Regions from separate parts of the Homo sapiens genome. Here regions 2, 3 and 4 are each linked to region 1. The links come from fine-mapping of genetic effects on gene expression. A gene starts in region 1. Each other region holds a variant in brackets. All regions are shown on one strand. Distances are between the middles of the regions. Region 1 holds the start of NAPRT (nicotinate phosphoribosyltransferase). Region 2 has its middle 6.4 kb from the start of MAFA-AS1. Region 3 overlaps CYP11B1 (cytochrome P450 family 11 subfamily B member 1). Region 4 has its middle 10 kb from the start of MAFA-AS1.

The links. PIP is the estimated chance that this variant, and not a neighbour inherited with it, causes the effect.
Region 2: its variant is fine-mapped to the expression of NAPRT in fibroblasts (GTEx, PIP 0.98).
Region 3: its variant is fine-mapped to the expression of NAPRT in aorta (GTEx, PIP 0.98).
Region 4: its variant is fine-mapped to the expression of NAPRT in whole blood (INTERVAL, PIP above 0.99).

Annotation. Positions count from the first base shown.
Region 1 is chr8:143,576,793-143,579,528 of GRCh38, reverse strand. It overlaps NAPRT (nicotinate phosphoribosyltransferase), which reads left to right and starts at 1,199. Exons shown (of 13, transcript NM_145201.6): 1 at 1,199-1,436; 2 at 1,586-1,713; 3 at 1,790-1,872; 4 at 2,130-2,260; 5 at 2,352-2,467; 6 at 2,687-2,736. The coding sequence starts at 1,211. RefSeq lists enhancers at 1-883, 884-1,791.
Region 2 is chr8:143,400,466-143,403,201 of GRCh38, reverse strand. No RefSeq gene overlaps it. Among named protein-coding and RNA genes, the nearest start is that of MAFA-AS1, 6.4 kb to the left of the region's middle. RefSeq lists enhancers at 109-755, 756-1,403, 1,404-2,051, 2,052-2,699 and a silencer at 1,729-1,905. The variant C/T (reference allele first, on the strand shown) is at 1,359.
Region 3 is chr8:142,874,325-142,876,824 of GRCh38, reverse strand. It overlaps CYP11B1 (cytochrome P450 family 11 subfamily B member 1), which reads left to right. Exons shown (of 9, transcript NM_000497.4): 4 at 1-143; 5 at 430-584; 6 at 947-1,113; 7 at 1,513-1,591; 8 at 1,671-1,868; 9 at 2,339-2,500. The coding sequence ends at 2,452. Among named protein-coding and RNA genes, the nearest start is that of CYP11B1, 4.2 kb to the left of the region's middle. The variant G/A (reference allele first, on the strand shown) is at 1,162.
Region 4 is chr8:143,396,635-143,399,370 of GRCh38, reverse strand. No RefSeq gene overlaps it. Among named protein-coding and RNA genes, the nearest start is that of MAFA-AS1, 10 kb to the left of the region's middle. The variant C/T (reference allele first, on the strand shown) is at 1,343.

The DNA.
Region 1 (2,736 bases):
CTTCTTTCCATTGCAAAAGCAAGTCCAGTTCAGGGGGTTTAAAAAGCCAGAAACAGAAACTGTTAGGTCACTATCTGGAGAGGCCACCACCCCACCACTCTGCCTCCTGTTGGCATTGTCCCCATGGGAGCAAGCGTGCAAGCCTGGAATTGTCCAGGAAAGAAGTCCCAGTAGCACCCGGCCCTGCTGCCATGCCCTTTGTCATGTGCTGTCCCGGCCCTCCCCTCACCTCATTCATTCCTGGAATCCCTGCCCCTTGCTCCAGGGACTGTGCCCCTCCCATGATGTTCTGGGGTGGCCAGAACGTGGCTGCCTGGGCTCTGTGGAGCTGTGCCTCAGCATCCTGACAGCCGTATGTGGTCAGCATGGGTGGCCACACTCCCTCCCCTGGACCACCCGTGTTTGCATTGGGGTGAAAGAGGATGGGGTGTAATTACTTGATTACTTCTGGTCAGACTCTGTCCTCGGGGCCCCAAGCCACAGGGGAATGGATTCTCCCTGGGTAGTGGCCCCTGACTTTGCCCTCAAACCTTTAGAAAGTTTCCTGTGGGGCTTGGACTGCAGGACCCCATAAAAGCCACCACTGAGGGACACTGGGCCTTCATAGCCACAAAAGGTCTTTTGGTGCCAGCCGACAGTGGGCATGCGCCCCCCTGCCCCACGCCGCCCTTTCCTGGGTGCCAAGCTCTTTCCAAGCGACATTTGCGTCCATCTGGGCTGCCTCGTCCTAGCCTGGCTGCTCAAGCTCTAACTAAGGCAGCCTCTGGCCTCCCTCCCCAGGCCCAGGGCAGGAGCTGGCTGCTGGCCAGCGGTTGTCTTCTGGGTCGGTGGGGGTGGAGTCTGGCTGGTCTGTCCTCCACCCTTTCCGCCGCCTGGCAAGTCCTGAGCTGCACCTCATTGCCCGGCCAAAGGGCAGAGACACGAGCGACTGGGGGCACCTCTGGTGACCAAGACCGGGCTGCGCTCCAAAGAGGCCGTTGGGCCTGGAGTGGGGTTGGGGGGTCCGAGAGGAGTTGGGTGACATCCCCCACCCCATCCCGGGTCCAGCTGTTTCAGCCCCTCTCGGCGCGCCGATACTATTAGCCCCACCCGTCCTCCATCGAGTCCCGTGCCGCTCCCAAACGGCACGATAAGCCCCACAGGGAGTGCGCCATAGGCCGGGGCGCGTCACGGGGTCGGGGCGGGGCGGAGTCCGGACGTCGGGAGCAGGATGGCGGCGGAGCAGGACCCCGAGGCGCGCGCGGCGGCGCGGCCGCTGCTCACTGACCTCTACCAGGCCACCATGGCGTTGGGCTATTGGCGCGCGGGCCGGGCGCGGGACGCCGCCGAGTTCGAGCTCTTCTTCCGCCGCTGCCCGTTCGGCGGCGCCTTCGCCTTGGCCGCCGGCTTGCGCGACTGTGTGCGCTTCCTGCGCGCCTTCCGCCTGCGGGACGCCGGTAGTCCCCCGTCCGCGCGACGAGCCCCCCACGCCCGGCAGAAACCCCCACCTATGGCCGGTGGAAGTCCTTGTCCCCCCGTGGAACCCCCCATGTCCCACGACCGGTCTGTCCCCGCGCTGGTCTCAGCGCAGTTACCTCGTTTCCAGACGTGCAGTTCCTGGCCTCGGTGCTGCCCCCAGACACGGATCCTGCGTTCTTCGAGCACCTTCGGGCCCTCGACTGCTCCGAGGTGACGGTGCGAGCCCTGCCCGAGGGCTCCCTCGCCTTCCCCGGAGTGAGTAGGGGTAAGCGGGCGGCGCGGCGGCCACGGGGTGCTGGGCCGAGCGCGGAGCTGACTTCTCTCCCCGCAGGTGCCGCTCCTGCAGGTGTCCGGGCCGCTCCTGGTGGTGCAGCTGCTGGAGACACCGCTGCTCTGCCTGGTCAGCTACGCCAGGTGGGCTGCGGGCCACTGGCAGGGAGCGTGGGCATGGGATGGGCCCCCAGCGCCGGGGCTCCGTGCTGGACTGTGGCGGCGGGGCTGGCTGCCCAGGGGTCCCAGGACTGGCCTCCCGCCCCCACTCTTCAGGGTGTAAGGAGGGGCTGGGTGAGGGTGGAGCTCCCAGGTTGGAAGTTCCAGGCCCCAGGTAACCGCCGTCTTGGGTGGCCTAGTGATCCTCACCCTGGGACCCCCTGACTCTTGGCTCCCCACAGCCTGGTGGCCACCAACGCAGCGCGGCTTCGCTTGATCGCAGGGCCAGAGAAGCGGCTGCTAGAGATGGGCCTGAGGCGGGCTCAGGGCCCCGATGGGGGCCTGACAGCCTCCACCTACAGCTACCTGGGCGGTGAGTGTCTGGTGCGGGGCAAGGCAAGGGCCGGGAAGGAGGAGCCCCATCTTGGCCCGAGGTCCCCCAATCCCACCGCCTTCCTCCCCAGGCTTCGACAGCAGCAGCAACGTGCTAGCGGGCCAGCTGCGAGGTGTGCCGGTGGCCGGGACCCTGGCCCACTCCTTCGTCACTTCCTTTTCAGGCAGCGAGGTGCCCCCTGACCCGGTCAGTCCCTCCTCTAAACCCTGCTGTCTCCAGGCGACAGGCCCCAAGCCAGCCCTTGCCCTGGCGAGAGGTGTGCCACCCAGGCAGGTCACCCCAGTGCTGTCCCAGGAAGCTGGCACGGGCTGCATTACCTTTGCTCTCAAACTAGGGTGTCCCTGGCTGCTCCCAGGCCTCATCCTGCATTCCTGGCCCCCATTCTTCACCGACTCTGTTCCACAGATGTTGGCGCCAGCAGCTGGTGAGGGCCCTGGGGTGGACCTGGCGGCCAA
Region 2 (2,736 bases), 180 kb after region 1:
GGGGGCCGACCGAGACTGAAAGGTGATCTCTGCCCCAGGGGTGGAGAGGGGGCACCCCCAGAACCTCCCACCTGCTTGAGGATCGCTGGAGTCCCAGGAGGTCAAGGCTGCAGGGAGCTGCGATTGCACCACGGCAGTCCAGCCTGGGCGACAGAGCGAGACCCTGTCTCAAAAACAAACCAAAACAAAAGGTCCTGAAATCATGCTGTTGACACTCAGTGTGGGGACAGGCCATGTGCAGGCCAGGACAGAGAGGGGTGAGTGAGCAGGAGAGAGATGGGGTGGGGGTGGAGACATGAATGGAGAGAGAGGGAGAGAAAGAGACAGAGCGAGACAGAGATAGAGAGTGCACGCCTGACTTCAGGACAGTGCAGCCCTCAGGCCACCATGACTGTGGGCAGTATCTACACTGTATCTACGCTGTCCAGGGTGACCAACCAGACCCGCGGCTGTGACCACAGCTGGTGATGACAAGCAAGAGGCAGCTGGGGTCAGGGGCAGGAGATTCCTGTTCTGTGGAAGGCAGGCAAGGGCGAACATCTGAAGCTGAAAGGAGAACGCTGTGAGGCCGGCAACGGAGAAGCACAGAGAGAAGGCGGGAGTGGCAAGAGGCACCGATGGCAGTGGCCGTGCAGATGGGGCAGCCTCGGCAGGACAGCTGGGCACAGCTTAGGACACTCAGCACACTCTCACCACACGGGGTCTGGGAGCGGACTCTCAGTGTTCACCCAGATGAGCAGAAACTGACCAACCCCCATGCGGATGTCAAGGCAGCTCTGTTCTTCAGAGCCAAGCCTGGAGCGGGGTTGGGAGATCAGCCCCAAACCTCCAGACAGGGGGATGTTACTCAGCACCACAGGGAAGGAGCTCTCCAGCCCGGAAAGACCAGCAGGAGCCTTCGAGGCACATTTCTAAGGGAAAGACGCCCTCTGAAAGGGCCACATGCTGTGAGTCCCACCAGAAGGCACTCTGGGAAAGGCAAAACCACAGGGAAAGGAAGAGTCTGCGGCTGCCAAGGTCGGGAGAAGGAGAGCTGGGGGCGCGGCAGGGGTGCTGAGGGTGGTGACGCCCCTCCGTGTGGTGCCACGACGGTGGAAACAGCAGTGTGCACCAGAACCCACGTGGCACACCTGGGGTGAGCCCCGGTGTCAGTGCAGACTTCGGGCGAGCCCTGCGGCTGATCAGTGATGCCAAACGGAGCACTGTGGGGCTAAGCGGGGAGCGGGGACAGGTCGAGGGCAAGGCCCGCGGCTCTGCACTTTCTGCTTACTTTTCTGTAAATTTTAAAATGCTCAACAAAAAAGTCTATAAATTCTACATACAAATGGAAACAGCAGAAAGACTTGCAAGCCAGGATG[C/T]CCCGCCCGCTGGGGGGGATGCCGGGAAGGGGGTGCTGAGGGGCTGGGATCCACCTGTCCCGAGGGTCTCCAACCCTCCTCCCAGCCCTGGGTCACAGGTGGGATGACGCTTGGGCTGTGGGCAAGAGCTCGCTGGATATGCCTCTCCTTTGTCTCTGTCTCTCTTCATCTACCTGTGTCTTCTCATCGCTCTCCCCCACACCGCCCTGTTTCTCCCACCCTGCCTCCCCTCCCCTCCCCTCTGCCCTCCCCTCCCCTCCCCTCCCCTCTGCCCTCCCTTCCCCTCCACTCCCCTCCCCATCTCTGGGCCGCCTCCCCTGACAAGCTGATCAATTGCTCATCACCGCTGGCAGGAGGTTCTAACTCAAGTGTGGCATCTTAATCAGCACCTCTGCTGTCCCAGGCCATTGACTGCCTGCTCCGGCCAACAAATGAGCCCATTGGCCAGGCCCCCTTTCCACCCGCCAGGCCTTGTATGCCTGCTGGGCTCTGCACGCCGTCTGGTGGCCGTAGGGTGCAGCACAGCCTGGGGTGTGGAGGGAAGGCCGGGGAGGGGAGGCTGGCAAGGTGTCCCTGAGGTCTACGCACTGGGCAGCTGGGAAGAGGCTCCAGCAGACACCCCCATCTCGAGCCCGCTGCTCACCCTGGACCCCCTTTTCCCACCTCCCACAGGACTGGCATGCCCTCTCACCCCTGCACAGCCTCCACTCACCCTGCACAGCCTCCTCTCGCCCCTGCACAGCCTCCTCTCACCCCTACACAGCCTCCTCTCACCCCTGCACAGCCTCCTCTCGGCCCTGCAGCCACTCACCCCTGCACAGGGGGCCACAGACCCAGCGCGCATACCATGCCCTTGCAGGTCCCCACCTTGCCTGCAAGCCCCTCCCCCCTTGCCGATGGATGCTGTGGCTGGACCCGCCCCCACCCAGCTGCACACCCAGGCCCTGGAGGGCAGGGGTCTTAGTCCACTGGGTCACAGCTGTTCCTCAGGGCCCTGCGCTTGGGGGACGCTCAGCAGGGCCCACTGCTGAATGAATGCACTGAGCTGTCCAAGAGCAGGAGAGCCCAGAGGTTCAAGACCGGAGTCTGGGCGCAGCCCAGGTGGGCACGGGCCTCAGCTTGGGGTGCCCGAGCTGCTCCTCTGAGGAGCATTCCCAGGTGTGTCTGTTGAGGTTATGAGGGTTCAAGGGACTCCTGGGAGTTGGGGTTCAGGGTCTTTCCTGGAGAGGGGTGTGGAGTGGTGTGGAGGATGTCGTGAGACAGAGGGAGAACAAGGCCCCCATGGACTATGCCCCAGGGCTGGAGGGGGCCTGGCACACTCCCACCCCTCCCGCCCTCAGCCAGCCTGTGAGGCCGGCATGCAGGCACAGGTGTCCCA
Region 3 (2,500 bases), 700 kb after region 1:
CAGCCTGAACTTCCTCCATGCCCTGGAGGTCATGTTCAAATCCACCGTCCAGCTCATGTTCATGCCCAGGAGCCTGTCTCGCTGGACCAGCCCCAAGGTGTGGAAGGAGCACTTTGAGGCCTGGGACTGCATCTTCCAGTACGGTGAGGCCAGGGACCCGGGCAGTGCTATGGGGAAGGGACACCATGGGGGCCCAATTTCTCCCTCTCCACCACCCAGTGGGGAATGGAGGCCACAGGGAGGGGTCGGGGATTCCTCACCTTCCTGCCAGGGAGATTGGTGCGAGGCTGGGGCTGGGCTGGGCTGATCCGGAGAATTTGGGATGAGAGCAGGGAGACTTGGGTGTCGGGGCAGTCTGGGCAGGAGGAGGACACTGAAGGATGTCTCCCAGCACCAAAGTCTGAGGGCTGCCTCCCGCTCCCCGGATAGGCGACAACTGTATCCAGAAAATCTATCAGGAACTGGCCTTCAGCCGCCCTCAACAGTACACCAGCATCGTGGCGGAGCTCCTGTTGAATGCGGAACTGTCGCCAGATGCCATCAAGGCCAACTCTATGGAACTCACTGCAGGGAGCGTGGACACGGTCAGGCCGGCAACCAGCCCCACCCAGAGAGGGTGATGCCAAGCCTGCCTCCCAGGCACTGCCTGCCAATGTCACACGGCGCCCACGTGTCCCATCCCCAGGCTATGGGCCCCACATTTCTTACTTGGGATTGTGATGTGATAAACACGTTTGCAGGTTGCCATGGTTGGAATGGGGGGTTCCTTTCTGTGGAGGACTCAGGGAAAGGGGTTTGGATGGGCATTAGGATTTGAAGTCTTGGGCTCTGTCGTTCTCAGGGTATGCATGTCTGCACCCCTCACAGGGAGGTTGTCCTGGGAGGGGTGTCCCGGGGGCTGAGTCCTCCTGTGCAAGGTCTGACCCTGCAGCTGTGTCTCCTGCAGACGGTGTTTCCCTTGCTGATGACGCTCTTTGAGCTGGCTCGGAACCCCAACGTGCAGCAGGCCCTGCGCCAGGAGAGCCTGGCCGCCGCAGCCAGCATCAGTGAACATCCCCAGAAGGCAACCACCGAGCTGCCCTTGCTGCGTGCGGCCCTCAAGGAGACCTTGCGGTGGGTGCTGGCTGAGGCCTCCCTGTGGCCCTGGCCCCCTGCTGGAGA[G/A]CAGCCCCCACTGGGTGGTGGCAGACAGAATCTGGGGCTGATAAACAGCGTCACCCAGCAGCCCATTCCCCTGCACCTGCTCTTCCTCCCCCTCAAGGACAGGGAGCTCTTCTTTCTCTGGAATCCCTCTTCAACGCCCTGGGGATTAACGTGGAGCATGTCCTTCTGCGCTCGGGGCTGCTTAAGTTAGGGGAGGTTTGGCCGGGCTCAGCAGGTGCAAGGAAGCACTTCCTACGACCTGGGCTTCCCATGGATCTGGGACCTCTGCGGGTTCTTCGGTAGGAAGGGTGCAGAGAGCACAGGAAGCCCCATCCAGCTGAGGACCCTTTCTATGGATGCCCCCACCTCCAGGCTCTACCCTGTGGGTCTGTTTCTGGAGCGAGTGGCGAGCTCAGACTTGGTGCTTCAGAACTACCACATCCCAGCTGGGGTGAGTGAGCCCCACACCCCTCGAGCTGAGAACCTCCCTCCCCAGTCATTCCCTGATCCCCGCTCTGCACCGTCCGCAGACATTGGTGCGCGTGTTCCTCTACTCTCTGGGTCGCAACCCCGCCTTGTTCCCGAGGCCTGAGCGCTATAACCCCCAGCGCTGGCTAGACATCAGGGGCTCCGGCAGGAACTTCTACCACGTGCCCTTTGGCTTTGGCATGCGCCAGTGCCTTGGGCGGCGCCTGGCAGAGGCAGAGATGCTGCTGCTGCTGCACCATGTGAGCAGGCCCGGGCTGGGGAGGGGCCTGGGCGGGGTCTGGGCAGCATGGGCGGGGCTTGAGCAATGTGGGACTGGCCTCGGCAGAGTGGGAGTGGCCTGCATGTTTCCTGGACTGGGCAGAGCCGGTACTGGGAGAACCTGGGCCAGGTTGAGGCTGTGTAGGTCCTGGGCAGGAGTTGGTATGGTGAGGAGCGTACCATCTGGGTGAGGTTGCTGCTAAACCGGGTCAGGTGGGAACTGGGGAAGTCGGGTGGAGCCTGTACAGGATAGTGGGGCTTGGGCAATACCTGGGCTGGATGAATTCTGGGCCTGGGCTGTAAGGTGGGGCTGGTCAGGAATGAAACAGGTTGGAGGCCAGGCTGCTGTTCCCCCTTCAGCATAATCTCTGCAACTTTGAGGGTCTGAGAAGGCTGCACCACGTGCATGGGCTGCGGACCAAGCCAGATGGAAACCCGGCTTCTGTCCTAGGTGCTGAAACACCTCCAGGTGGAGACACTAACCCAAGAGGACATAAAGATGGTCTACAGCTTCATATTGAGGCCCAGCATGTTCCCCCTCCTCACCTTCAGAGCCATCAACTAATCACGTCTCTGCACCCAGGGTCCCAGCCTGGCCACCAGCCTCCCTTTC
Region 4 (2,736 bases), 180 kb after region 1:
GTGGCCCCAGAGCTTGGCTGGGTCCATACTGCCTCAGCCCTGCCCAGCTCCAGTGCCCCTGACACCCCCAACCCTCACGGAGCCACAGCCAGCAGGATCACAGGGGGGCAGCCTGGAGCCAGGGCTCAATAGAGGTGGTGACATCAGACTGATGTCATCATTGTGTCCTGCGCTGTGTCCTGGCACGCCTCCAGTGACGCTCACCTCTGTGGCCTCTGCTTCCCCACCGAGGGAGGAGGTGGGTTCGGGAGGGGAGTGTGCAATTGAGGACTGCCTCCCGGAGGAGTAGTGGGCATTGGCTATGGCCCAGGGGTACGCCCTTGCCCCTCTGCGGTGGGGCTTGCATATCTCTGGGGTGCAGGCCAGGGCCCGCACCTCCCATCAAGAACCCTATAAATAAATAAGCTGGTCATATAAATAAACCACAGCCTGCCAGGCAGTCCTGACCCCAGGGCAGCTGCAGTGCCGGGCCAGGCTATCTCTTGCACCCAAGGCCTGCCCACACCCTCTGGGAAGAGTGAAGAAACTGCCAGACCCTCCCCACAGGCCCAGAGGAGGCTCCTAGAAGCCCTGGGCTCCCAGTACCCACAGCTGGGCCTGGGTGCTGAACCAAGGGGAACCCCGGGGAGCTGCTGGCTCCCTCCCCCACACCTGGCACCCAGTCCCACAAGGCCGGTGGCTGGACCCTGTCTGGGCTGCCTGGAGCCTAGCTGGCCTCCCACGAACCCTCCCGCCCAGGTGATAGGCAGCTGAGGCCCAAAGCCCCAGCTGAATGAGCTTGGTTGGGGTGGGAGAGCTAACAAATCAGCTCCAGGCTCCCCCAGCCCAAGCAGGAGTCCCCGGGTTCTGGTGCCCCCAGGGTTGGACTGTGATGGTGCTGGGACTGCCTTGCGCTGCCCTATTGGCCAGGGAGCCGCCTCCTCCCACACTTCCTCCCTGCTGTCCTTCTCGGAAGACGCCTGCCCCCACCCCGGAGTCTGGGTTGGGGGAGGCCACCCTCAGAGGCCTCCAGCCCAGACCAAGGAGGAAGAGGAAGACCCCAGGGTCCAAGATGGATGGGCCCCTGGGGCCTTGGCCCCGCCCCAGCCAGGCAGATGGGGAAGCAACTGTCAGCACCTAATGGGCCCTGTGACGAATAGGGCGGGGGTGCTGGCGGAGCTTCCGAATATCCCTGCAGAGTCCCCAAGGGCAGGGCAGTTCCGGCCCAGCATGGAACGATCAACACCGGGGTCTGGGGACCCGCAGGGCTCTGTCCCCTGCCCCTGAGTTCTTGGGTGGGTTCTGGGGGTCCTGGCAGGGAAGAGGCGGCAGTGGGAGATATCTGAGGTGGTCCCGGGCTGCC[C/T]CACGCCCCTCCCAGGCTCACCGAGGGGATGCTGAGCTCAGCGCTGGCTGGCTGAGGGCTTTAGGGACCATTAAAAATGCTCTCTGCCGGCCGCTGTGAGCTGTCCATTTGCTGCTGGCCTGTAGTTACTGCGGCCCCACCCCCACACATCCGCCCTCAAACCCTCACCCTCAGGGCCTCTCTGGCTTCCGCCACCCTTCCTGGGTGAGGGGCCCCTCCACCTGCCCAGCCAGAAGGATGCCCGCCCCTCGCCAGAGCCCCTTGGGGAGACCCCATGCTGAGCGAAGGTGGTGGGCACAGGACACATGCTGTGACCCCAGTGACCTAAGGCTCTGAGGCTCCGATTCACAGGGTGGGGACGGGGGCTGGGGAGGCGAGTGTTTCACGGGAACAGAGTCAGTTTGGGAAGATGGAAGATTCTGGAGGCACGAGGATGTGGGCGCGCTTCACACCACTCAGGTGCACCCTCAGAGATGGCTGAAATCGTAACACATTTTACCGTAATCACAATTTTAAGTAATCAAGCCGTCCTGTGGGGTCCTCTATGGAGGCCCAGCTCTGAGTGGGACACTGGGCTTGGGAGGTGACCGTTTCAGGACAGCCTGTCCTGGGGCTCACGAGGCCAGCCTAACCCTCCTGCCAGGGTCGGGGTGACTGAGGGAACCAGGGGACATATGGGTAGGTGGGCCCCTTCCATCACTGCCCCCTAGGAGGAACAGTGACAGTCCAGGAGGGGACAGTGGGAGGGTAGAGCACCCAAGGTTTGAGCAGAAGGGCATGGGCGGGGCCCTGCCGCCCAGCACCCTGTGGGAGTCCCTGGAGGGCAGGCCTGGCCCAGGCCAGACCCAGGAGGGCTCTGGGAAGAGCAGGGCTGGAGGCAGGCGCCACATACAGTCAGGGTCCAGCTCCTGGAACAGAGGAGTCAATGCTGGGGGTGCGGGGAGGGAGTTCCCTCGATGGCAGTGGAATCTGGGACCCTCAGGCCACTGGAGCTTCCCAGCCTGGCAGGCAGCCACTGCAGGCCTTCGCTGTCTGCGCCCGCCCTGCACTCCGCACCCTCGCTGGGTTGGCGTCCGGGACAGGGCAGGCCGGAGTGGGAGCACCCCCATGCGTGGGGCTCTGGTGTTGGCGGGAGGTCCTCAGGCCTGGGACCCTATCTTGGCAGTGGGATTTGGGGCTCAACAGAAGGAGCAATTCTGCCTCAGTCCAGTCACTGAGGGGCCTTAACTCCCTCCCTGGAGCCCCAGCAGGCGGCTTTGGGCTTCCCTGTCACACAGAGGCTGGGGATGCTGACCTGGCAGCGGGCAGAGTGAGGCCGCGGGAGGGCTGCCTGTAGAGACAGGGGCCACCGCCAGTCCAGGAGAGATTCAGAGGGCGTCTGGCTTGGCCCAGCC